Homo sapiens: one gene and its partners. The protein of the gene in region 3 purifies or fractionates together with the protein of the main gene of each other region. This does not show direct contact. Each region holds a gene or a part of one and is shown on either strand. Other genes may lie near its edges. The genes, in order: DPYSL5, SNAP91, DNAAF2, CALB2, GPM6A, SYN2 and NCALD.

The links.
Region 1: the proteins of DNAAF2 (region 3) and DPYSL5 purify together in Homo sapiens (affinity purification with mass spectrometry; 3 studies listed by BioGRID and IntAct, with this or other methods). This does not show direct contact.
Region 2: the proteins of DNAAF2 (region 3) and SNAP91 purify together in Homo sapiens (affinity purification with mass spectrometry; 3 studies listed by BioGRID and IntAct, with this or other methods). This does not show direct contact.
Region 4: the proteins of DNAAF2 (region 3) and CALB2 purify together in Homo sapiens (affinity purification with mass spectrometry; 3 studies listed by BioGRID and IntAct, with this or other methods). This does not show direct contact.
Region 5: the proteins of DNAAF2 (region 3) and GPM6A purify together in Homo sapiens (affinity purification with mass spectrometry; 3 studies listed by BioGRID and IntAct, with this or other methods). This does not show direct contact.
Region 6: the proteins of DNAAF2 (region 3) and SYN2 purify together in Homo sapiens (affinity purification with mass spectrometry; 3 studies listed by BioGRID and IntAct, with this or other methods). This does not show direct contact.
Region 7: the proteins of DNAAF2 (region 3) and NCALD purify together in Homo sapiens (affinity purification with mass spectrometry; 3 studies listed by BioGRID and IntAct, with this or other methods). This does not show direct contact.

Annotation. Positions count from the first base shown.
Region 1 is NC_000002.12:26,921,132-26,924,631, reverse strand, and holds part of DPYSL5 (dihydropyrimidinase-related protein 5), read right to left. Parts: intron 1-3,500. UniProt on the Homo sapiens protein: Involved in the negative regulation of dendrite outgrowth.
Region 2 is NC_000006.12:83,706,302-83,710,334, forward strand, and holds the start of SNAP91 (clathrin coat assembly protein AP180), read right to left. Parts: upstream 2,801-4,033; 5' UTR 2,544-2,800; exon of another isoform or gene 1,939-2,543; intron 1,657-1,938; 5' UTR 1,627-1,656; coding exon 1,497-1,626; intron 1-1,496. UniProt on the Homo sapiens protein: Adaptins are components of the adapter complexes which link clathrin to receptors in coated vesicles. Clathrin-associated protein complexes are believed to interact with the cytoplasmic tails of membrane proteins, leading to their selection and concentration.
Region 3 is NC_000014.9:49,625,245-49,628,744, forward strand, and holds part of DNAAF2 (protein kintoun), read right to left. Parts: intron 2,912-3,500; coding exon 2,768-2,911; intron 805-2,767; coding exon 298-804; 3' UTR 1-297. UniProt on the Homo sapiens protein: Required for cytoplasmic pre-assembly of axonemal dyneins, thereby playing a central role in motility in cilia and flagella.
Region 4 is NC_000016.10:71,361,723-71,365,222, reverse strand, and holds part of CALB2 (calretinin), read right to left. Parts: intron 1-3,500. UniProt on the Homo sapiens protein: Calcium-binding protein involved in calcium homeostasis and signal transduction. It plays a critical role in buffering intracellular calcium levels and modulating calcium-dependent signaling pathways.
Region 5 is NC_000004.12:175,802,265-175,805,764, forward strand, and holds part of GPM6A (neuronal membrane glycoprotein M6-a), read right to left. Parts: intron 1-3,500. UniProt on the Homo sapiens protein: Involved in neuronal differentiation, including differentiation and migration of neuronal stem cells. Plays a role in neuronal plasticity and is involved in neurite and filopodia outgrowth, filopodia motility and probably synapse formation.
Region 6 is NC_000003.12:12,010,888-12,014,387, reverse strand, and holds part of SYN2 (synapsin-2), read right to left. Parts: intron 1-3,500. UniProt on the Homo sapiens protein: Neuronal phosphoprotein that coats synaptic vesicles, binds to the cytoskeleton, and is believed to function in the regulation of neurotransmitter release. May play a role in noradrenaline secretion by sympathetic neurons.
Region 7 is NC_000008.11:101,780,970-101,784,469, reverse strand, and holds part of NCALD (neurocalcin-delta), read left to right. Parts: intron 1-3,500. UniProt on the Homo sapiens protein: May be involved in the calcium-dependent regulation of rhodopsin phosphorylation. Binds three calcium ions.

The DNA of each region.
Region 1 (3,500 bases), on a different chromosome or scaffold from region 3:
AAACCACATCGTGGGTCACCCGACCTAAGGCCTATCTTCCCAATGAGGAGATTCTCTCCCCAAACGATTTTTAGCCAATTGACTCTATAGATAACATGATCAAATGTCTGCATGTAATATATAACATAATATAGTGTTGTATCATATAATAACATAATATTGATGGCATAATCAAATGTCTGTTTATATCATTTACTTAGTTACACACGTATATTTGAACCACGATATAGAAAATGTTAATTTGGATATATTGTTTTGTTTTATGCTCTCAAATTTCATGAAGCAATTTTGTTCAAACATTTTGCACGCATCTTCAACCTCAGGGTCTTTGTCTTCAGTTTTTCTAAGCATAGGGGCTTCATTTTCATCTATCTTGTTTGAGACAGGCATTTTTTAGATGCATGTGTGATTTATCAGTGAAAACGGATCCTATTCACAACTCCGCAAGATACCACTTTAAAAAGAAATTGTTAAAAAGCCTCACTCGCAATCATAGAGTGAACCCCCAGGAAAAATGACTAAATCTGTATTAGAGATTCCCCCACTCAACTTTTTAAAAGTGAATTTCATCAGGGGACTTCTGTGAAGTTCCAAAACTAGCATCGATCAAAGGCTATTTCAGGCTAATGTGTTGTTCCCAAACAAAACTTAAAATAGAATTAAAATAAGTGAGAGTGGGTGCAGTGGCTCACACCTGTAATCCTAGTACTTTGGGAGGCTGAGGTGGGTGGATCACTTGAGGTCAAGAGTTCAAGATGAGCCTGGCCAACATGGTGAAGCCCCGTCTCTACAAAAATACAGAAATTAGCTGGGTGTGATGGTGGGTGCCTGTAATCACAACTACTTGGGAGGCTGAGGCAGGAGAATTGCTTGAACCTGGGAGGTGGAGGTCGCAGTGAGCCAAGAATGCGGCATTGCACTCCAGCCTGGGCAACAAGGGTGAAACTGTCTCAAAATAAATAAATTAATTAAATTAAATAATTGAGAGTCCCATAACATGAGAGTCTTTGTGAGGGCTCTAAGACAAAGTGACTCTTTTTCTGGTGAGAAATGGTTTGAGTCCTTACAGTGCTTCACGGCTCCACGTTCAAGTCCCTGCTCTGCTCCCTCATGGTTGGAATAACCTCTGCCAGGTTACTTAACTTCTCTGGATGCAAAGTCTTTACCTACACAATAGGGTGGCTTCCTTGTTGGGTAGTTGTGAAGGTTAAGTAAAACATTGCTTATGGAACAGATGTGGTAAAAGTGTTGTCCTAACATGTGTGTTTAGTTACTCAGAACTTAGGTTTTTGTTTTTGTTTGAGACTGGGTCTCACTCTGTTGCCCAGGCTGGAGTACAGTGGTGCAATCATAGCACACTGCAGCCTCAAACTCCTGGGCTCAAGTGATCCTCCCACCTTGGCCTCGCAAAGTGCTGGGACTGCAGGCATGAACCACTGCACCCAGCCAGAATTTAGGTGTTTATCTGTTTTCTGTAGGGGAGAAAAAGAGCTCCATGAAATTGTCTTAATGGTTTCATGCTTCTCTATTCAGTTAAATCCTTGATCACAAATGAAAAATATTGCTGGGGAATAAGGGACTGAAAAAAAATTAGCTCAGTGGCCCAACAGCAATTAAAATGAAAACTCTCACAACCTTGATGTTCCATGACGCAGGCTGGGCCAGCGAGAATGTTCCCAGTCGTCCTGGGGAACTCAGTGGTTTGACTGCTTGCACAGCTTAAAGCAACCAACAGAGGGTGGTAGTTCTGTGGCACCTGCAGGAGCTGTGATGGGGGCGGCAGAGGAACCGGGAGAAGGAGAGCAGTGCAGATTGTAGCTTTACTAGCAGGCTTCTATTTCCGATTTTGCTGGATCGTGCCAGGCTGATTCATCCTCACAGCAGGTGGTTGTACTCTATTTTGTCCTGAAATGCATCTCTTGCTTTTACATGTGCACGTGGGGGTGTATATTGAGCTTTACACACTAAATTGTTTCATTTTTCTGTGGCTCTAGATTGCTTTCCTTTGCACTCCCACAGTACCTCTGCAGGCTTGGATAGGAAAAGAGGAACCTGGAAACAGCACAGTGAGATAAAAGAGCCAGGACCAGTCCTCATACTGTGGGTCCCAGGGCAAGAGGAGAAAAGGAGGATCATGTGCTGATTCTCTAAACACTCAAAAGTTAGATCAAGCTAAAAAACCATTACACAGAATATACTCTATCCTCCTACTCTGTCAAATACATCTTCATAAAGGCCAAAAGGGCCTGGCCCTTAGAATCCTCAAGTTCCTTAAAATTCTGAGCTACACTTCAGGGATAGTTGGCCTCAGCCTCTGTGCCTGCCCCCAGCCCACACGCGCCTATCCTGAATTGATCCTGCAGCCTGCAGACCTAAGCTCTGTCCACCTTCTGCAAAAATGCTGTCCTTGAGCCTGGTATGCACACATTGGTGGTCTGTCCCCCAGGAGGAGAGATTCGGGGTTTTGTAGGCTCTGGAATGCTCAGGGCTGTTTCTCAGGGAATTCTAGGGACCCAGAGTGTAGTTTAGGAATGGGTGAGTGGGGTCTGGGTAGACACAATCCCCAGACCTATGGGGCAGGGGTACAAGTTGTTGGAGGGCCCGAAGAGGACCCTAAAGTCCAGAGCCCTGGGAAGAGGCCCCTTTTGCCTGGGTCTAAGGACAGGAACTGAAAATAGTTCAGGAAGGAGTTGGAAGCATAGGAGGTGGTCTTGACTTTCCCACGTGTTGGTTGTAATCTAGGAGCAGCCACGTGCCCCCTGACCTGCACCTTACTTCTCAGGGGTCCCCAGAGGGTCAGGTGGCAATGGATGTGAGAGCATCTATGAGCTGGGAGGGGCATGCACATAAGTATCTGGAATAATTATTACCGCTGTTACCCCAAGGCCTCGAAACAAGAGTTTCACTGGATCAGCAAACTCTCCCCCAGCTGCAGGCTCGCAAGCCCACACCACACACTGATGTTCAAGCACTTGTTTCCTCTTAGGCAAGACATACATAGAGTTGGCTTTTTGAATATGTACCATTCCAACCCACAGGATGAATGCTGACAAGCTCTGTTTTCACAGGAAAGTGGTATCACAGATGTGACAGACCTTTTTAGTGTCATCCCCCACAAAACAGCCTTGTAGAAATCGGCAGCAAGGCACAGCCCAATTGTGTTCCCGAGGCTTTCAAAAGGATGATGTTTAAGAACATGTGATTGCTGAATGCTCATGACTTTTTACACAAAAAATGGTGTTGGTTAAGTACGCTGCAGAAGATCTTTAATGGAAGCCAATAAAAATGATGTTCACTAGAGACGGGGTTTCACCATGTTGGTCAGGCTGGTCTCGAACTCCTGACCTCAGGTGATCCACCTCGACCTCCCAAAGTGCTGGGATTACAGGCGTGAGCCACCACGCCAGGCCGAGCTATTCTTTTAAGGTAAGCTTCCTGACAACATGAAATAATTGGGGTTTTTTTTGTTTAGTTACGTTAGGTTTTGCTATATCCCCGGG
Region 2 (4,033 bases), on a different chromosome or scaffold from region 3:
GTTGGGGAAACTGATGGGAAAATGGCTAAATGATTCAGCATGCTGCAGCAAAGTGATCTGGTCACAAATTTACAATTTCTACTTCTCTTAGGTGCCCTGGCCCTGGTGGCCTCTTTCATCCTGTACTGCATATATAACATATAATGCTGTAATCAATAAATTTAGTTAAACATTCCCTTGGGAAAGGCATAATGGTACTTTCCCCTCCGATGAGCTTCTAGAAACAAAATTATTCAATTCTATGAGACAACAGGTTCACAAGGCTGGACAACTCTTACAATGTCCAGTTGTAAGCTTCATCAAGCTTCGCTTATGCAGATAATAGGGCTAGAGTGAATTCTGACACTGGTGCCATTTTCTTAGCTGCACAAAGGAAATAGCAGGAAAAAGACCCAAGACCAAAAAAACCCAGAAGATGGGCAAAGGAAGCCAGCTGAGGAAATGGCTGTGGCCATACCTGTGTCTCTCATGCCAACATTCACCTTTACCAAAAACATCACAATAGAACAGAAGATCCTAAGCAGGTCAAGAGAACTAAATAGCAACTGCTGAACATACACTCATATAGCCTGACTTATGAGAAACCTCACCACCCAAAGCAGGTGAAAGCCTTTTTCTTTTCTAAGTGCCTCTGTTTATCCTTCGGTGACAAAAGATTTACTGTTAATTAAGGTATTTCAGAAATATATAGATTCCAGAGTAGAATAAAGCCTTTTCCATCAAATAACCAGTTACAAAAATAATATTAAGAATTAAACGGTTTCATCTAAAATTGCACCATCTCAGATGCTGGGGAAGTACATCCATTTTGTGACCATAGCATAGTCATCTCACCCAGCATTTTCTGAGAATGGGACAAAGTGTGCCAGGATGTGTAAAATGAAATTGCCATAGCTATGAAGTCCAATTTCCTCATTCAGTACCTTGAATTTATTTCAGTTTGGTATGGTAACATACCTCACACACACACACACACACCCATACTCACAAAAACAATCCTCAGGAGCAACACTTAAAAAGATTATACTACCTTAGAACTATCTGAAATGTATTTAGGAAAGAACTAGGGTGACAAGTTTGACCTTCCATAAATTCATCTTTTTTTTTTTTGACTGTGCAACCTCTAATTTCCTCTAATTTGGAGAAGGGAGGGTGGGTGGAGAAAGAAAAAAAGGTGAAAAACATCTAATTCAGTGTGTACAATCTCTCTCTTGTGTGTGTGTATATACATATGCGTGTGTGTGTGTGTGTGTGTGTGTATTTTTCCCCCTCCACCAAGACCTTGGAGGTCAATAAGAGGAAAAAATGGCTCACAAGACAAGGTTTCATGGCTAACCCAAGGGAACACCTTCACAGCTGAAGAATTTCAGCTCAGGGGCAACCTGGCTGGGAGTATCAGAGGCCACAGCATTATGGACCAAGAGCGCAGGCCGCACCACCAGCATCCCAGGCGCCTCTGCCGTGCGCATGTCCCTCTTATATAAAGAGATGCTTACAGTCCAGGTGCTTTTTCTTGGGGCCCATTACTTCATGAGTAGTGGCTTTGCAGACCGCTCTTGCTACAGCAGAGCCTGTAACGCTGTACTGAGCGGCGGCGATCCGATCCGTGAGCGTTTGGCCCGACATCTTCTGTGGTCGCGTCTACCGCCTCCTCTTCTGCAGGAAACAAGGGGAGACGGTCCGGCTTTAATCCGCAGACCCTACCCTCCAAGCACCCAGGCCTTGCCTCCTCCAGCCGCGCGGCGGCTCTCTCCTCCTCCATCCCCACCCTGGCACCACCTCTCGGAGCCAGCAACGCGCCAAGCCCCGCTCCTGCGATGCGGTCCAGGGAGTCTTGGCCGTGAGTAGGGCCGTCACGGAACCCCAGCGTGGGCTCCAGTCGCAGCATCGTGACACCGTCCCCATTCTCCCCCGGCCCCCACATAGGGCCAGACTCACCCCCTGGGGACCCCCCTGTCAATCAGCACTTTCCCCGCAACCTGACCCGCGGGTGCTGGACTAGCCACAACGTGCGTTGGGGTTATTCCCTGGGCGCCGCACCCACCGGTGCCCATCTCCCACCTCAGCAGACTTTCCTCCTAGCAGCCCGCAGGCTTCGGGGAATGCATCGGATACCCAAGCCCTGGCTGCCTCCCTCCTCCTCCTCGCGCTGCTGCAGCAAAGGGCTCGTCCTCCCTCAGTCGCGAAGGAGATTATCCTAGCGTTGCGCCATGTTATGCCCTCGCCTCCCCTTCCTTCCTCGCCGCCGGCTCCAAAGCCTCGCCGAGGCCCATCGCCCGGGCCCCTTCCCCCCGGTTCCAAATCCCTGCCGCAGGGGCCGCCCGGGAGCTCTGCGGAGGCGCCGGAGTCTTGGGGCGCCTCACCCTTCCTGGCTTTGGAGAGGAGCCGGGCTGACAGCGAAGCCCAGTCCCCCGCCCGCCCTGGAGCGCTCCGCGGAGCTGTCACTCGGCCGCTGCCCTTCTCCGCACCCTGGGATTATCCTCTGCGGATCCCCGCGAGACCCTGGCGCGGGGAGGGGGCCGAGTACGGCCGCGGGTACTCACCCCGCCCCTGAGCGGCGCCGCCCGCCGCAGGATGAGCGGAGCCCGGGCCGCCGAGGGAAGCCGCGCCGGTGGATGTGTGCGACCGCGCGTAGCCCCGGTGCCCCCGGGCGCAAAGTCTCCAGCCCTGGCCGGGCCCCGCTCCTCAGCTCCGCGGTCCCGGCGCCCACCGCCCCTGGCCCCTGGCCCCAGAAGCCAGTACCCGCCCGCCGCCGCCTCTTCTGCCAGCGCCGCCGCGTCTCTCTAGCGCTCCGAGCTGCGTCCCCATCCCCGCCCCCACCTCAGCTGTGGCTCCTCCGACGAGTCAGGTGACGGCGGCGGACAAACCCGGACGAGCCCTCGGCGGAGCGCCTCGCGGCCCCCTCCCAGCTACTCACACACACCGCCCCCCGGGGCCGGGAGCTTAAAGGCGAGGGGGCGCCTCGCGCAAGCATCCCCGGCAAGCCGGCGGGGAGAAGAAGGAGGCGGGGAGGCCGACACCCACCCAGCCAGCGGCTCTCCGCTGGGCGCCGGGCCGCCCCTCCGCTGCTGGCGCCGCACCCGGCACGCACTGGGCTCGCGCACCACGCACACCTGCCCGCCGACTGCGGGGGGAGCCCTGGGCGTTGGGGGCGTTGGCCAAGACGGGCGAGTGGGCTTCTCGGGTTCTACTCTGTGAAGGCCAAGGCAAGGGCGTCGTCGCGCGCTGCCTGGCGGAGCCCAGCCCCTTCCCCACACTGTCGCTGACACGCCCGCCTGTCAAAGGCTCCGAGGCCCAGATGAGCAGGGCGATTTTAAATGTCAGATCCTGCCGGCCATCCGCGACCGTCACCTGTGCGTCTTCAGCTCCTCAGGCTCCTCCGCTTGTCTCAGTTACAACTGGGAGCCCGGGTGGGCAGGTAATTCTAGCCACTTTAGTCTTAAACGGATACTGAGGTCTGCTGAAGGGAGAATAATTAACACAGCCGTTAATCGAGTCCCAGATTACCTTCGACAGTAATCATTTGCGTGCATAAAGAAAACCCTTTGTACCCTTAAGAAGTAATTTCTGCCAATTAAATATAGTGTTGGAACGTCCGTCAATTGTATGTCAAGTGTATATTCGAATAGTAAGCAGGAATTTCTAAACAGGGATGTGGAGTTGGTTAATAGCTTCACGTGTTGACATTTTCAAAGGTTGTTATTTATGTTCACCTTTTTTTTTAATTCTCACAGTAGCATGAAGATCAAAACTATATTTGTGAGCTTTCCTGGCATTTTTTCTCCTTGCTTCGGGTGGCTTCTGCTCGGCCTTGAAGCCATATATCGATACCTATCGATCTCAACGTTTTGTTATATATTCCTCTCTTTCACCTGGTACAGTGTTCAGTATGCAGTCATGATTTCCTAACTACTGAGACTGATTCTAGGACTAATTGGAAGCTTAATGACTAAAGAGAGACAGCTTAAGAGCACTATTGTCTCAAGTACTAGTCTTACCATATTTACAAGGGAAATAAAAACGCAATTCTATT
Region 3 (3,500 bases):
ATTAAAACTAAATGTTTTAACTCTCAAATGTTTTAACTCTCAAATAGAAAACATACACATCTATTACAGGAATCACAAAACTTATCTCCATAAGGAAACTTTAAACTCCAGAGGCAAAAAAAAAAAAATTATCTCCAATTTCCCCCATGAGAATCAAAATTGCAATTTTTTAAAAAAAATTGCAAATTTTAATTTTATACTTTAATACCTTTAGTTTTAAGACAACAGTTAACAGAATCAATTTTAGATACAGGTATTTTTTAACCTTAATATTTAAAAGTCCAAAATTATATAGAATTAATCCAAATCATATAGCAAAGAATTCTGAAAACTGAATGCACAATTGGTCACATGATCTTTAATGACCTGCACACTACCATCCTGCATATTGGTTTCTTTTATGCTGTCGAATCCAGGTATATTGTGAACCGTAGTTTTGTTCAGTAATGAAGATAGGTGATCTCCATCTGTTTCTTTCTCTTCAGTTATTACTGACTCGTTTAAGTTATCTTTTTCCTCATTTGAACAAGTAGCACTTTTTTCTTTTATAAATTCAGATTGCATTTTTGACTCAGGTTGCTGAGATTTTCCAAGTATCATTTGAGAAACATCAAGAGACTCTTGTTGAAAGCATGTAACTAAACCAAAGCTATCTATTTGTAGTGCTTTAACTGCTATAGATGAATCAGAATCAGTTGTAGGGGTGTTACAATGTTCTATATATTCCTTTTCAGTTAGATGACTTTCTTCATTTACTCTTTCCTCCTTTCCTTGTAGCTGATCAGAGTTACTACATTCTTGCAACTGTGTCAAGAGAAACAACAAATTAATAATTATTTTAAATAATACAAAATTAAATTGTACTACCCTCTGGAAATAAAATTTTTAACAGTTGTGAGGTAATAGCCCTTACAGACCTGCAGGTATACATCCAGGCTTTCCTGTCAAAATTCATCCTCCAGGCTGGGCACAGTGGCTCATGCCTGTAATCCCAGCACTTTGGGATGCCAAGGCAGGCAGATCACTTGAGGTCAGGAGTTCGAGACCAGCTTGGCCAACATGGCGAAACCCCATCTCTACTAAAAACACAAAAATTAGCCGGGTGTGGTGGAGCACACCTGATAATCCCCTCTACTTGAGAGGCTGAGGCAGAAGAATCACTTGAACCCGGGAGGTGGAGGTTGCACTGGGCCGAGATAGTGCCACTGTACTCCAGCCTGGGTGACAGGGTAAGACCCTGTCAAAAAAAGAAAAAGACAGGCAGCATTTGAAGGATGACTTTTTTTGTTTTGAGACGGAGTCTTGCTCTGTCGCCCAGGCTGGCACAATCTCAGCTGACTACAACCTCTGCCTCCAGGTTCAAACAATTCTGCCTCAGCCTCCCAAGTAGAGGGGATTACAGGCATGCACCACCACGCCCGGCTAATTTTTGTATTTTTAGTAGACACAGGGTTTCACCATGTTGCCCAGTCTGGTGTCGAACTCCTGACCTCAAATGATCCACAAAGTGCTGGGATTACAGGTATGAGCCATCACGACTAGTCTGCTGCCAGTCTTTTTTTTTTTTTTTTTTTTTTTTGAGATTGAGTCTGGCTCTGTCGCCCAGGCTGGAGTGCAGTGGCGCAATCTTGGCTTACTGCAATCTTTGCCTCCCAGATTCAAGCGATTCTCCTGCTTCAGCCTCCCAAGTAGCTGAGATTACAGGTGCCTGCCATGACGCCCGGCTAATTTTTATATTTTTAGTACAGACGGGGTTTCACTGTTGGCCAGGCTAGTCTCGAACTCCTGACCTCGGGTGATCCGCCTGCCTCGGTCTCCCAAAGTGCTGGGATTACAGGTGTGAGCCACTGCACCCAGCCTACTGCCAGTCATTTTTTAACAATGTAAACCTGGCACTAATATCCTGATTATATCCTTTCACAACAATAATCCATACTTTTCAACATGGTCTACAAAACTATTTAACAGTTATAAGCACATTGTTGAATTTCTTAAATTTTCTTGAATTCCTCTAATTTTTCAGAGCCGCCCTTCTAATACATATGTCTGTCGATTGTGGTAGTTACTAAATCATTTGCATCTTCAATACTGAAGACTATAAAAATGACCAAAATTAAGATTGAATTAGAAAGAACGTACAAATTGTATAACATAGTTCTCATGGTTTGAGAGTCAAAAAAGATTGTATGTCCCTGGACTAGTACTCAAACTTCCTAAGTGTTAGTTTCTCTTTGTTCCTCATTGTAGGGTTATTTTGGGATTAAATAATGTGAAAATGAATAGCAAAGTGTTTAGCACATAATACATACACAGACAAAAGGCTTTTCTTGGCTGGGCGCGGTGGCTCATGCCTGTAATCCTAGCACTTTGGGAGGCCGAGGCGGGTGGATCATGAGGTCAGGAGATCGAGACCATCCTGGCTAACACGGTGACACCCAATCTCTACTAAAAATACAAAAAATTAGCCAGGCATGGTAGCATGCTCCTGTAGTCCCAGCTACTTGGGAGGCTGAGGCAGGAGAATCGCTTGAACCCAGGAGGCGGAGGTTGCAGTGAGATGAGATCGCGCTACTGCACTTCAGCCTGGGTGACAGAGGGAGACTCCATCTCAAAAAAAAAAAAAAGAAAAACTTTTCTTCTCTTAACATCACTCTGCCCAACCATTATGTAAATTTTGTTTAAAGTTATGATATTAAGAAATCAATAATTTGTTAGGTTTTAACTCTGTGCTTCATTACTCCTCTATAGAGCCCATCAACTTCCTTACCTTTGCATTAATTTGAATCTTATTATCAGTAACTTGAAGAACTTCAATTAATGGTGGGGTCAAGGACATAGACTGTTTGAATGGAGAGCTCAGGACCTCTTCAAGAAACTCATTAACATTTTCTTCATTGACAAATAACCTTTCCTAAAATAAAAAGGGAAAAAATATTCTGCCTAATAAGTCCCACTTGACAACAGTTGTATCTCAAAGCAGCTCACAAAAATTCTCACATTGTTCAGGGTTACACTTTTTAAAATGTTTATTTTAATGTTATTCCTATGAGCTGTCTTAGAAAAATTTAAGTTTGGTATTGTACAGAGCAATAAGAGTTGTACTGAGAACAAACATAAACGTATAGAAAAAGAACCTAAAAGAAAGAGGTCTTGGTACTTTTTCTGTCTATTAAACCTGACCTTTTAGTATTTTTCTTTCTTTTTTTGTTTCTTTTGTTTTGTTTTTTTGAGACATAGTCTCACTCTGTTGCCCAGGCTGGAGTGCAGTGGTGCAATCTCGGCTCACTGCAACCTCCGCCTCCCAGGTTCAAGCAATTCTCCTGCCCCAGACTACCGAGTAGCTGGGATTACAGGCGACTGCCACCATGCCGGACTAATTTTTGTATTTTTGGTAGAGATGGGGTTTTACCATGTTGGCCAGACTGGTCTTGAACTCCTGACCTCAAGCTATCCACCTGCCCTGGCCTCCCAAAGGGCTGGGATTACAGGTGTGAGCAACC
Region 4 (3,500 bases), on a different chromosome or scaffold from region 3:
AAGGCATCCAGGAGGCCAGGCCGCTTGTCGGTCTATCTGGAGTTCAGATTTATCGAAGGCAAACAGTCCTCTAACCTCCATCTGGAGCACCCTCTGGGACAGTCAAATCCTACCCTTTGGGGTAAGAAATTGGCTTCCCCAGGCTCTGCCCCAGTATTAATCCTGCTTTGCTTGGTGCGCACCATTCCCAAAAAGCTTTCCACTTCCCACCTCATCTGTTCTTTACGACCCTGCCAGGTAAGCAGTTATCAACCCCATCTTAGAAAGGAGGAATCGGAGGGGGAAGGAGATTCAGCCACAGCTGACAGAGGTCCTGGCCTCCTTCTATTTGTCCCAGGGACAATGTCTGTCCATATCTGCATTTGTCCTGGCTTCTCTCTCTGACACACACACACACGCTTCTTCCAGTGGCTTCTGGAAAAAAGAATAAGCCCCAGAGTGAAGAGCTACCAGCCACCAGCTGAATGTTTGGGCACTTGAATTTCAATCTATGTTTCTGGGCTGTGCTGCTTTGGACCCGTGGTTCTGGAGCTGGGCTGGGTCCCCTGAACCTGTGGACATCTGGCAGCCTAATGCTGGGCTGAGTCCCAGGCATGAGGGAGGCCAGAAGGATAGGGCAGATTGGGTGAGAGGGGAGATAGTGAAGAGCCAACAAGGACAGAGGGAGGGCTGAAGCCAGAGGCCCCAGATGGGCCGGCTTGGCAAAGGAGGGCCTGGGATGCAATCCGCCGGCAGGCTGGGGCTGGAGAGGCACTGTTCTTGAAGAGCCTCAGGCCTGCTCTATTAATTCTAGCTCCTTTGGTTTTGGAATTGATTTCCCTGAGGGGTCTCCTTAGCCCTGGAAACCTCCCTCAGGGGCTTGGCTGGTAAAGCTGCTGAAGTCTGGAGGGGAATATACAAGCTGAGCAGGGCAGGGACAGCCGGCCTGGCTGTCAATATCAAGGCAATGCAGGGCTGGCATCTTGTTTGTGAAACGGGTCCCTTAGGCGGGCTCCCCCGGGGAGCCCCAGCTCTTCACAGACCAGCTGCTCCCCGCTGCCGGCTGGTGCAATCAGAGTCTGAGAAGCAGAGCCATAGCAGGCAAGAGCCCACCTGGAGGTACCCAGCGTAGAGCTGCTGCACGTGGACACTCCACAACCCAAGGACGCTGTTAGTGAAAAAACTGGGGAGTTGGGGGAGGGAGCAGAGGCAGGGGTGGGGGACATTTTCCAGGGCCTACCCCAGATGGGTCAGGCGGCTGTTCCCTGAGAGCCTCATATCCTGACATCACGCCACGCCCAGCTGAGAGGTATACAGACCCCCAGAGGTTCACTAACAGGGTTCAGAGAAAGCGCTCCTCTGACAACTTTAATCTTGGTTCCCAGTGTCGGACCCTGTTGATTTTAATGGGCCAAGACCCAATCGTTTTGATAAATCCTATGATTACCTTATAGCATTGTAACTGTTGTGTCATTTATATAAACACTTAATATACATCACATATTTTGTGACCCTATTTCAGCATGTGTTTCACTTTGGTATTGCAGGACCTCTCATGCAGCCGCCCAGGGCCAGTTGCCCAGGTTCCCGTTCATCTCTGAGAGGTGCTGCTGTTCTAAATTTCCTCCCCATTCCCTAAACCAGGGACAAACAAATGAGCAGTGACCCGTGCCCTGGAAGAGCCTGCCTGGGCACTGCAGTCTGGCCCTGAGTGGTCCTCAGTGTTGTGTGGGCTTGGAGAAGACTTCTGCCAGGTCACTGGGTTTCAGAGGGCGAGGATGGGAGCCTGCGTAGAGCCATCCTCAGCCCTTTGTGGCCTCTGTTGTTATTTTCAAAATCCTCAGGGTCCACATAGATAAGGAACAGGACTCAGTCCCTGTGAGAGGCTTTGAGCACCCCCTACGTCACCTGGGCCACTTGGAGGTGGACAGAAGCCCAGAAGAGTATAGGCAGATCCCCCCACCTGGAGACATATACATATTTCTTACAAGGGAAGAAAAGGTGTCTATCACATTGTTTTCTTCTTATATCTTTATTTATTTAGTTAGTTATTTTTTTAAAGATAGGGTCTGGCTCTGTTGCCCAGGCTGGAGTGCAGTGGTGCAATCATAGCTCACTGCAGGCTTGGACTACCTGGGCTCAAGCCATCTTCCTGCCTCAGCCTCTCAAGTAGCTGGGACTACAGGCGTGCGCCACCACACCTGCTTAATTTTTAAATTTGTAGTAGGGGGAGGGGGGGTCTCACTGTATTGCCCAAGCTGGTCTCGAACTCCTGGCTTCAAGTGATCTTCCTGCCTTGGCCTCCCAAGGTGCTGGGATTATAGGCCTGAGCCACTGTGCCTGGCCTCCCTTCTTATATCTTTATTGTTTTGCTGACTACACAGGAAATAGATGCTCTTGTAAAATTTTCAAGTGCTATGGAAATTAACTTAGAAAGTAAAAGAAAATCCCCTTTCATTTGGCTCATCCACTCTTCAGAGAGAGCCGCTATTATTCAGTTGTATTTTTCTAAATATCCTGCAACATACATATATCATTCATAATAAAAACGGGCTTATAATAGTGTTCAGCTACAGTTTTAAACAATATCTTAATAATACATCTTGGACATTTTTCCATGTCACTACAAAAGCTTCACTTCGCTCTATCATACTCCATCATAGGGATGACCATATTTATTTTTCTGTCCCCCAGTGAAGCACATTCTCCCCTCCACCCACTGAAATTGTTAGTATTTCCGAAGAACACTGTAATAGACATGTTTGTTCATATAACTTTCTGCGCACATACGAGTATATCTATGTAGGCTAGATTCTTGGAAGGGAGTAGGATGTTCACCTTGGCCCCATGAATGTCTGCTTGCCCCTGGAAGAGAACTCATCTTATCTTTACATTCTTAGTTGCTTTCAAAGGGGTAGCAAAAGCTAAGGCATTTCTCTTTGGAGCCACAACTTTGCTGCTCGCAGATGGTCAGTAAAATAGGAGCCCGGTGGCCTGTCTAATCAGAACCATAAATAAAGGACAGTGTGAACTCTGAACTGGGCATCCCTCAGCCACCTGGATCCTTTAGAGGGGGAAAGGTCCTGATACAGAAGTGTCCAGGAAGCAACAGAGCAATGGGCTCAGATACGTAAGGCCACGTCAGGGCCACTCGGAGCATGGAGGTGATGTTCGGAAGAGCCCTAGACCCCACCAGGGTCACTGGGTGGGCTTGGCTGTCATCTTCCCTACCTCAGCCTTTGAGAGACAACATTGGAACCCTCCCAAACGCATGCTCTTGGCTGACTGCTGAGGCAGAGTTGGTGGAGTGGTATTGCGGACTAGGAGACCAGATTCCTGGTTCCCCCTTCACCTCTTCCTGCTTTGCTGTGTGATCTTGTGAAAAGAATTTTGCCTCTTTGAGTCCTAGTTTCTCACTCTCCAAACATACACTTCTTCCTTTCTCTACCACAAAGCTAATAAGAATTTTGAAAATAATCCAACTCTTTAGGGTGATGGTGGCTTTTTCTGTTTTGGAATGG
Region 5 (3,500 bases), on a different chromosome or scaffold from region 3:
TCCACCAAATAATGGTATCACAAGTTCATCTCAAAACACAAATTAGTGATTAATACATCAAAAAACTTAGTACACCAAAATTGTAGAGAGAATATGATGAGCATTGAAAGGTTAGATGGAAATACTCTTCCGATACCATTGACCAGAGCTCAAATGCCCTGTTTTCAGATACTGTCTTGATCCCATCTAAAATATAAGCCAATTGTGTGAGACTATATACCAATTAAAATACAAAAACTAAAATAAAGCGTAAAAGAAGGCAAAAGAAAATTGATTACTCATTGCATGCTATTTTTTAAATTCATTACCTTGAACATTACTAAACATATCCTAGAAAAGGTCTTATCTTATTAAACTGTCCTCAATGATTTCAAACTGTTATTTCTTATGTAATTTTGTTTTCTTTGATCAATACTTATGAATGAACACAGTAAGCCTAGTGTCAGCAAATTTGTAAACTACTTTGTTAAATTTTAACAGCGTATTATAAAATATTATGACATAATTTTCCAAGTTTCAGTAACCATTTGCTGAATCTGACAGTTTAATGTATTTGACTTCATTGCCAGAATCACAATGCTAAAAATATGTGTGGGCTCTTTAATAATAAAAAAAGAAAATCTATTCATTTTCAAGAAAGCTGCTACCAAACTACTGAATATATTTCAGGTCAAAGAATAAAAGAATTATTTTTAATTCAAATCTAATGACATAAAATGGAGTCCTTGCTGCATTCTCCCAAGCCAGGTTTAGCTGCTCTGTTAGATCTGTCTCTATTTAGGGGAAAAATTGTGTTTTATTCTTTCTTTAGTCTGCACAATTGACCTCTTCTTCTTCCTCTTTATCCTCTTCTTTTTCTTCCCCTCCCCTCTTCCTTCTCTTTCTCCTCCTGTTCTCGTTTCATCATCATCATCATCATCATCATCATCATCATCATCATCAGCTATGAATGGGTTTGTATTCAGAGCACTTTGCAGGTTGGGTTCATGAACAAACGATAAAAACTTTACCCTTCAGGAATTTGTACTTTGAGAATGGAGCTACAGCATAACACATACATAAGAAAAAACAGTAAGATATGCCATATAGTAAGTGACAAACATTTAAGAAATAACTGTTACAACAATTCGAAAAAGTTATTAGTCCTTTAATTCTGACTCTCTGACTCAAGGAAAATTGCTTGGTCACCTTTTTAAATGGGCACAGTGTGTTAAGATGAGAGGAAAGGAAACATGGAGAAGGAATCTGCATTTACTCAACTCCTAGTATGTTCCAGGAATTGTAATAGGCGCTTTTACCTAGTCTTTATTACATCTAACTCACATTAAACAGACCTAAACCCAAAGATAATGGTAGAGAAAATTAATTCTCAAAATGGAGATTTTGAAAAAAATATGGTTGAATAACACAGATTAAGTTACAGAGAAAATGAAGGTGGAGAAAAGGAGCCAGGGCTTTAACACAGGTCATCTGATTGGGAAACCAAAAGTCAATTGGCCACTCATTATGATGGTCAATTGAAAAACTCCTGGCCCTTATACATATTTAAAATTCATGGAGACAATCTGAGTGGGTGGTTTCTGAATTCTAGATCTTATGACTCAATTACAACTTTCTACTGTGAAAGGTTGAGCAGAGATTTAAAATGCTTTAAGTTCAATTATTCTGACTAATATTCAAAGCATTCTTTTCACTGTAAAATGGTTTTTTTTTTTAACTTGATGAAAAACTAAAATAACGTCTCTGAGACAATAAACCACTAAATGAATCTGGCTTTGGTAATACATTGGTACTATTTAAAACAGAGATTCTCAAAGCCTATGGTTGGTTTTAAATTGACAAACCACATTCAGTGTCATATCTAAGAGTTCCATTGTTCAAACATTGCTCAATCCTTATTTTAATAATGAATTCTATTATTGAATATTGAAATATTGAAAGGTGTTTGAAGAAAAATAAATATAATTCCTTACTGCCACTCAAATGTACAGTCTGTGGTTCCAAAAATTTGAATTTAAATGCCCTTATTGTGGGAAAAATAAATTTTTAACTAGAAAAATGGAGAAATCATTTGGCTCATTCTCCCTTCTGCCCACCTCATAATCTTTCTTGGAACTGAAATGGAAGACTACCTCATTTTGTTACATGACAATTCTTTTTTTCTCTGGATGTTTGTGTGAGGTTTTCTCTTAGTTTCCTGTAGAGTTTGAACCCAATGGCCCTTGACTAAATAGTGTGACCGTAAAGTCAAAGAACATTTGATATTTATTAAAAAGCTGTAATCAATATTTATTAACTAGTGTTAAGATATATTGACATTAGACACTGCATATGAAATGCTTAGAACAGTGCCTGGATTATTAAATATTAGCTATTATTATTAATATTTTCCTTGACAAATAAATCATGCTAGTAAAAGTACTTAATTATGTTTCTGATGTTCAATAACGAAACTGAACAGAAAAACTGATATGGTATAGGCTGTTAAAAATGAAAGTGGGCCGGGCTCGGTGGCTCACGCCTGTAATCCCAGCACTTTGGGAGGCAGAGGCGGGCGGATCACGAGGTCAGGAGATCGAGACCATCCTGGCTAACACAGTGAAATGCTGTCTCTACTAAAAACACAAAAAATTAGCTGGGTGTGGTGGCGGGCGCCTGTAGTCCCAGCTATTCGGGAGGCTGAGGCAGGAGAATGGCGTGAACCTGGGAGGTCGAGCTTGCAGTGAGCCAAGATAGCCCACTGCACTCCAGCCTGGGCGATGAGCGAGACTCCATCTCAAAAAAACAAAAACAAAACAAAACAAAAACAAAATGAAAGTGGATATCCACCAACACAGGAAATGTGTAGAAGAATCTCAAAAAATTTTTTTTTCAAAAAAAAAAGCTGTCAAGTTTTGGGGGGAAGGTAATTTGGCCGTGTACTAGTTCTTTATTTGAATTATTAACTAAACTTTGTTGCATAAAACAACAATCGGAATAAATACAGGTGTAAAGTTTTTCTCCCATATTTTATTTTTGTTAAGAAAGAATAGGTAATTCACCATTCAAATAACCTTTCTAATGGGGAATATTAATTGCAACCATAAAAATGTAGAAAATAGTTTCCCAGACATTGAAAGTTCTATTATAAATCAATGAAGAATGCTAATTAGCAAAATACTTTAATTGCCTCACTTTTACTTGATAACCAAGAAAAAGCATGACCATCCCCTTTTAGGAGACAATATGAACAATCTCTTTTATGTTTCTAGCATCATTCTCAGGGATAGATTTCATCCAATTCCTCTCTTTGATGGAGGTAAGTAAAGTAAAACTCATCATTTCTCATATGATAAAAATTTAAGTCCAAAAACATTAAACAATTGAAACAATGTAAGAAAGTGTCTTTCTTTCTTTGGGAAATCAATCTGGATATATACAGCAGTTAATGTTCTAACATGTTGACATCTCTTAATACACATCATTTAAAAGCCGACAGTCATTCTTCCTTTTTTCTCTGA
Region 6 (3,500 bases), on a different chromosome or scaffold from region 3:
TTTGAAGACAGTAAGGATGACTTCCAACATATTAACATATACTTCTAATCCTAGGATACTTCCCTCTCTTCATTGTTACCTTCTATCCCTTATCTCATCCTTTGACTCTCTTGCTGCTCAATTCAATATGGCAAAGATTTACTGTCCTCAATCTATGTGTCAAGCCCTATGCTGGATGCTAAGGATGCAAAAAGGAATGAAACATTCAGCCTGTCTGTCCTCAGAGAACCCACTATCTAGTGGGGAAGCAGACACATAAACAGACCATTGTGTTGTGTCCAGAGATAAAGATACTTGCAGTATTGAAAGAGGGCATGGAGGGGGCATAGACGCTCAATACAATCTAGAGAGTTAGAGAAGAGTTTCTGGAAAAGGAAATACTCAGTCTCAAAAGATGAATATGAATTTAATCAAGAAAAGGAAAGGGGAGGAAGGGAAACTGTAGTAGCAGACAGTAAAGACAAGGAGGAGGAATGCAACAATGTGTGTATGGAAGTGCAAACAGTTCAGTATTGCTGGAAAAGGAAGTCTGGACATGGAAATAATTAGAGACGGCAGGAGAAGAAAGCAGGGGTCAAATCACAGGAGGGCCATAAACTACCTATAGGATGTAAGAAGCTCCTGAAAAACTTTAAGCAAAGGAGTAAAAAGGTCAAATTTGCATTTTAAATAGTTCATTCAGGTTACTAAATGGAAATCATGATGAGACTTGCAGAAGTTCTAGGTGAAAGTTAATGAGAACTTGAAATAGGTGACCATCGGTGTCCCACTTAAAATACAGAATAGAAGAGCTGGAATAGGAAGGAAAAACATGGATTTCAATATTGGATCAAACGACTCTTAACCACCCAGATGGAGATGTCCAGCAGGCAGCTGCACATATGTCTAAAGATGAGGACAAAGTTTTGGACTAAAGGTAATGATTAGGGAACTGATTGTACTTAAGAGGTAACTGACACCTTGAGAGTAGATGGACCAGGGAGAATATGCAGTATAAAAAAAGAAGTGGGCAGGAAAAGGGGGCCCGGAGGAACATCTACATTTAATGAGGTAGACAAAGGGAAAGAACAAGAAGAGTGAAAAGAAACTTCGATAAAACAAGTATGAAGAGAACAAAGAGGCTGGGGGTGGTGGCTCATGCCTGTAATCTTGACACTTTGGGAGGCTGAGGCAGGAGGATCACTTGGGGCCAAGACTTCGGGACTAGCCTAGGCAACATAGCAAGATCTTGTCTTTACAAAACTATTTAAAAATTTTAAAAAGGAACAAAGAATGCAGTGTCCTGAAGCCAAGCGACTTCCAAAGGGAAGATATACAGTGTCAAACACATCAGTGAACATTTGACACCTTCCTCTGGATTTAGCAATTAGGTTCCCTAGCAAGAACAGTATCAATATTACAGAGAAGGCAGAAGGCCAGTGTCAGTGGAAAAGGGCAAATAACTGGATAAGTAACGAGTGAGATTTATCTTTCATGTTTGGAAGAGTGATTAGGAAGGTGAGGATGAGTTTTTCATTTGTTACTTTATTTACAAGAATGGAGCAACCCATAGAAAGAGCAATCAGTAGAAAATGAGAATATGAACAGAAGGAAAAAGAGAGATGAAATCTTAAGCAAGGTCATGCAGAAGACAAGAGATGAGTCTTTTTCAACAATAGGCAATGCCTTTATCCTCGGAGAATGAAATAAAGAAAATCAACGTTAAGGTAAGAGAACCAGGACAAGAGCATTCCAAACAAAGGCAGCTGTGCAATAATAGCACCAGGTCTTAAAAGTCCAGCATGTGTGCAGGGAGAGGGTAATCCAGAGTACAGCAAAATTCAGGATTGAGGGGACAGTGAGAAATGAGTCTGAAAAGCTGGAGGCAAACTGTGAATAAGCACAATGAGCAACTACGTGTTAGGGAAGAATGTTAAGAAAGAAGCTAACTTTCTAAGATCCGTGAATGCTTTTGTTTTGCTTAAAAATATTCTGAAAGCAATGTTCTAGGCTTTGATTGGATAGGGAAACAAATACAAGCACTACCTTTTAAAGGCCTTCTGTGTATTTCTCTCTTCCTTCATTTTCCTCTGTAGCCATCCTTCCTTAATTAGTTACAAGTAAAACTGAAGGAGAGCTATTTTAGAATTCACTTATTAAATAAAATTAAGATTTATGTGGTTCTGCCCCTAATTATTAAATATAGCTGAGTTAATGGGTAATGTTTTTGTCATTAAAAAAAAAAACTAAGTTATATTGCCTTTTGAAAAACACAAAAGAAAGCCTTTGATGATATTGTCTTGAGTCGGTGGCCCTCAACTAAATAACAACAACAAAAAGAAGATTCCTCATCCCAGAAGTGTGCAAAATAAACAATCACTTACATAACAAAATTTTGGGAACTCAAAAAAGGAACCAAGGTAGATCAGATACCTGCGGCTGGAAACAGGGAAAGATGTAACACTAACTACTAGTATGGCTCTTTAGCTTTTACAAAATGCTTTTATGGTACCTTATTTTATTTAATTATCACAACAGTGGTATCAGAAATACATAATGTTATCTCCACTTTACAGGTAATGAAACTAATTTTTGTCTGTTATTCTAGAACCTTGAACAGTGCCTGATATATAGTAGACCTCCAGCGGAAATCTGTCAAATAGATGGGAGAAAGGCTCAAGGAGATTATGTAAACCTGATAAGGCCATAAGGCTAACAGTGGAGCCAGATCTCAATTCGAAGTCTTTTGACCCTCAATCCTGTATCTCACATTGTTTCATGCTGCTGAAAAGGAAAGAAGGGCAGGGTGACTGAATCTAATCTATTTTACAATCTTACATGAACTGGTTAAAATTTCTGAAATGCCTGCTGTCAAGCAACAAACACCAAGGCCCATATACATCCTCCTATTCTTAGTCATGCAGCATGGACATCCTTAGAGTTCAGGCACCTGTGGTATCTGCTCACTTTATTCTCTCCACAGGTCACTGCCCTACTAAAAACTACGTCTTCCTGCTGTATTGAAGCAGTGTCTGCAGAACAGAAAAGCCTTCTAGATCATCCTCTCCTTTCTCTAAAGAGATATTGTAGCTTTATGATACCCAATTGCTTCTATGTGGGAAGCTAAAAAAAATTAGGTAACAATTTTTTTCTTATAAAAAAGGCAATTTCTCTTGCAAAAGATTTTCCACAATTCATTTAAATAGTGAGTGCCCCACTGTTTTTGAAATTATTCAATTTACAAAAACTCAATATACACAGCTTTTTCAGGATCATATCCACCACCTAGAGTGAAGTCATGGTTAAATGCAGTAGCCTCAAGACAGAGTTGTATCTTGGTTTTTCTGTGTGTTTAGTGGCACTCCCACTATGTGTACACCTGTAAATCTTGTAAGAACTTCTGCAAGCTTATCAGGTGGCATTGTCATCTTTTGTTTTAGATTCCCACATAGATTTAGCCACAAGTCCCAATTCCCATCATTGATGAGGAAATATACACAGCAGGCATCACAGGATTAGCC
Region 7 (3,500 bases), on a different chromosome or scaffold from region 3:
ATTGCCCCTCCCTTTGAACCTAAATGGGCTTATGATTGGTCCAACTGATAGAGTACAGTGGAAATAATGCTAGGTGACTTCCAAGGATAGATCATAAAAAGAATACAATTTTTTTCTCTCTTGCTATTCTTTTTCTTCTTGACATTTTCCCTTAGAATCCAGTCACCATATTGTAGGAAACCCAGACCACATAGAGAGGCCAAGAGTAGGTATTTCAGCCAACATCTCTTGCTAAAGTCTCAGCCGACATCCAGCATCAACTGGCAGGCATGTGAGTGAGCAAGCTGTCAGATGACTCCAGGCCCGGTCATCAGGTCTTCCTTCCCCCTCCTGATGCCAGGGAATCACAGATGCACTATCCCTGCTGAGCTCTGCCCCAGGTTGCAGTTTCATGGACAAAATAAAAGTTGTTACTGTTTTAAGCCCGTAAGATTTGGGGTGTGGGGGGGTAATTTCTTAGGCAATCAGAGTAACTGGGACATTTGGGTAATTAGAAATGAGTGAAATGCCTGTGTAGAGGGCTAAACTTCAGGTACATATGGATTATTAAATAGACTTTTGTGATTTGGCCTAACCTAACCTAATTTCTGGAGGAAAATATATTTCTGTTACCAACCAAATTACAAATGAGCTTTTGGAAATTTGGAACAATGTCCTACAGGTTAATGCTGTTGCTGGTTCTAGGAAAAGATTTGGGCTACACTGAGGCCAGACTGCATGCCTTAGCAAGATCTCGCTCATTGGCCCCCACTGACTGGGACCCTCCCTGCAGGAGAGTGCAGTGTGGATGGCAGTACTCGTATCATCTGTCCTAGACCATCATAGGACATGCTCAGTCCTCCTTGTCCACTTTGTCTCCCTCTCCCATACCTACTCTGTCTAAATTGCTGCCTACTTTTCTATTGTTAGAAACTGCTGTATCTTTGACACTATTTTGGCCCATTTCCTATGCTTCTAGGGCAATGTTTTCTGCTCTACTGGTTTGTAGTAAAGCTAGGGTATTCTCCTTAGCCAGGTAAAATTTAGCTAATTCAACAAAATCTTATGCCTCTTAACAAAATTGCCAAAATGGCAGCTGTCCCATTGGTCTGTGGCTCCATGTGTTGGTCAAATCTAGCATTTGAAATCCTCAGAAATGTGGTCCTTGTGTCCTTACTCAAAGAGGCATCCCTTTCCCTTCTGCTGTAGAGAAATCAATGCCCCAACTCTCTTCTCACTTACTTAAACTTCACCCCATCCTAATAGTCTACTCCTCTTCCCTTAAGAAGACTCTCATTCATTTATTCATTCAGCATTTGTTAACTCTGTACAGTGAGCCCTAGAGTTAAGTGCCTATGAAAATATTCCTTTCATGTCCAAGGACTGCTAAGGTTTCTCCAGCTGTTCCTCATTTGCTTACCATAGACACAGGGCAGATGTGGTGCAATCACCCAGACTTTTCAATAACCGGGATATATCCCATCTCATCCAAGATATTTCAGCTAAGTAGGATACTGCATGAGTAATATAGGACCAGCCAGTCTTTGAAAAGGTAACAGTCTAGTTAGGAAGGCTGGATGGCATCTGCATTTGAGGGCCAGAGCTACGTCTTCCACACTGGCTACAACTTCCCACAGTGCCCAGCATCATGCAGGACATACAGTGCCTCCTCTTTACATCTCTGTTAGGTGATTAGTGAACAGATTAACCCCAGAGGATATATGGCATTGAGATGACTTTGGAGAGGAAGTGAGCTTTGAGTTGGGCCTAAAGGATAGAGAGCGTCTGGCATGAGGAGCAAAAGTGAAAGGATAATCCTTCATTGAGAAGCATGATGAGAACATTCTAGTGACAGAAATAGGACACCTCCCCACCTGGAGTCAAGAACATGGTTGGGAAAAGGAAAAAATATATAATCTATATGGTGGGTCCATGGAGGATCTAGGATTTATCCACTTAAGCTGGATTTGATCTGATAGACACTAGGAAGCTGGGGAAAGCTGGGAGCAGGGAAGTGATGTACATGTTAAGTGGGGTGAGAATATTTTAGTGACTCTGTTTCTTTACACAGCTCATTTAAATCCCTGAATATGTGCTAAGTATTTTTGTCCATTTTTCTCATAGAAAAGTTTTAACTTCTTAAATTTTAAGAAATGTGAATTATCTTTTGCCCTCCGTAGGTGTGAGTAGCCATTTTAACTTTAGCTGGGTTATATCCGTAGGCAAAGCTGTGTAACTTCATAGTTTTAAACATATAACCTATTACTCATCAAAGTCATACTCATATAAGTTCCAAACCAAATGAACAAGTCAAGCCTTTAAAACATTTTCTATAAAACTATACTATAATGAGTATACAATGAAAATTTATATAAATATATATTATATGTATATTTATATATATATAAAACATACAATATATATATACTGAAACCCCTGAGACACTGCACATTATTCTGAAAAATCTTTGAATCATGTCACCAATGAAAAATTAGGTTGTGTTCAGTGAAATTTTAGTTGTAAGTTATGAGTGCATTGCATTACATTACACCTGAAATCTTTGAATACTGATCATCAATATAAGTGTCTGGCAACTATCAGAATGTTCTTAACCAGAGCATGCCATCTTTAAGAAAAATATTATAAATTATACATGCAAAAAAGTGTATATAACATATATGTACAATACAAAGAATAATAGAAAACAAATCCCTGGGTAGCCAACAAAAACACCATCTGTTAATCATTCTAGTGAAGAGTAATGCGTTGATATTGATGATAATTTCACTCTAGTAGCACACAGATTAGTACTGTCCCTAAGGTCCAACACCAGAAGAAATTGAATCGGTGATATGTTTTTTAACTATTTGATCACATAAAGATTTTAAACCAGTTGAGTCATTTATTTCAGTCTCTGATGGTGAATGAAAGGTATGTTTTCCACTTACAAAACATCACTTGCTATTGCTGCTGGCAATTGTGAAGGTTTGTAAATTGGTTTTTGTGTCGAGAGGCCTTTGCCCCAAGGCCATTGCCCATGTTGTGCTCCTTGTCACCTCCCAGCTATTCAGGAGGGAATGGTGAGGGAACCCTTGGTGAGCCCTGAGCTCTTGGTACAAGATCTGTATACTTAAGTTATTTAAAATGAATATTAATAGAAGACTAACATAAGACTATCTGAGTATATTACTAGGACTAGAAAGTCTCCCAGGTTGAATGGGACAACGTGGTACCAACCTTGGTACAAGCCCAACTGCCAGGGGTAGTTAAAGCAAACCATTCTCTCTCTCAGGGTATATATATATATTTTGGTATATTCAGAATATATTTCACAAAATAGAAGCTATTTAACCATTAAAGATGCAATCTTTGGTCCAAATTCCACTTTGCAAAAGAAATTGTCATTAGATCTGTTTGTGCCCACCTTGAAAAATGTTGATCAACTTCCAATTTTTAAAGGTCGATCTGTTACTATTTAGAAATAGAACTCTCTTTCTCCTCAGACTGTCAAAACAGCCTAC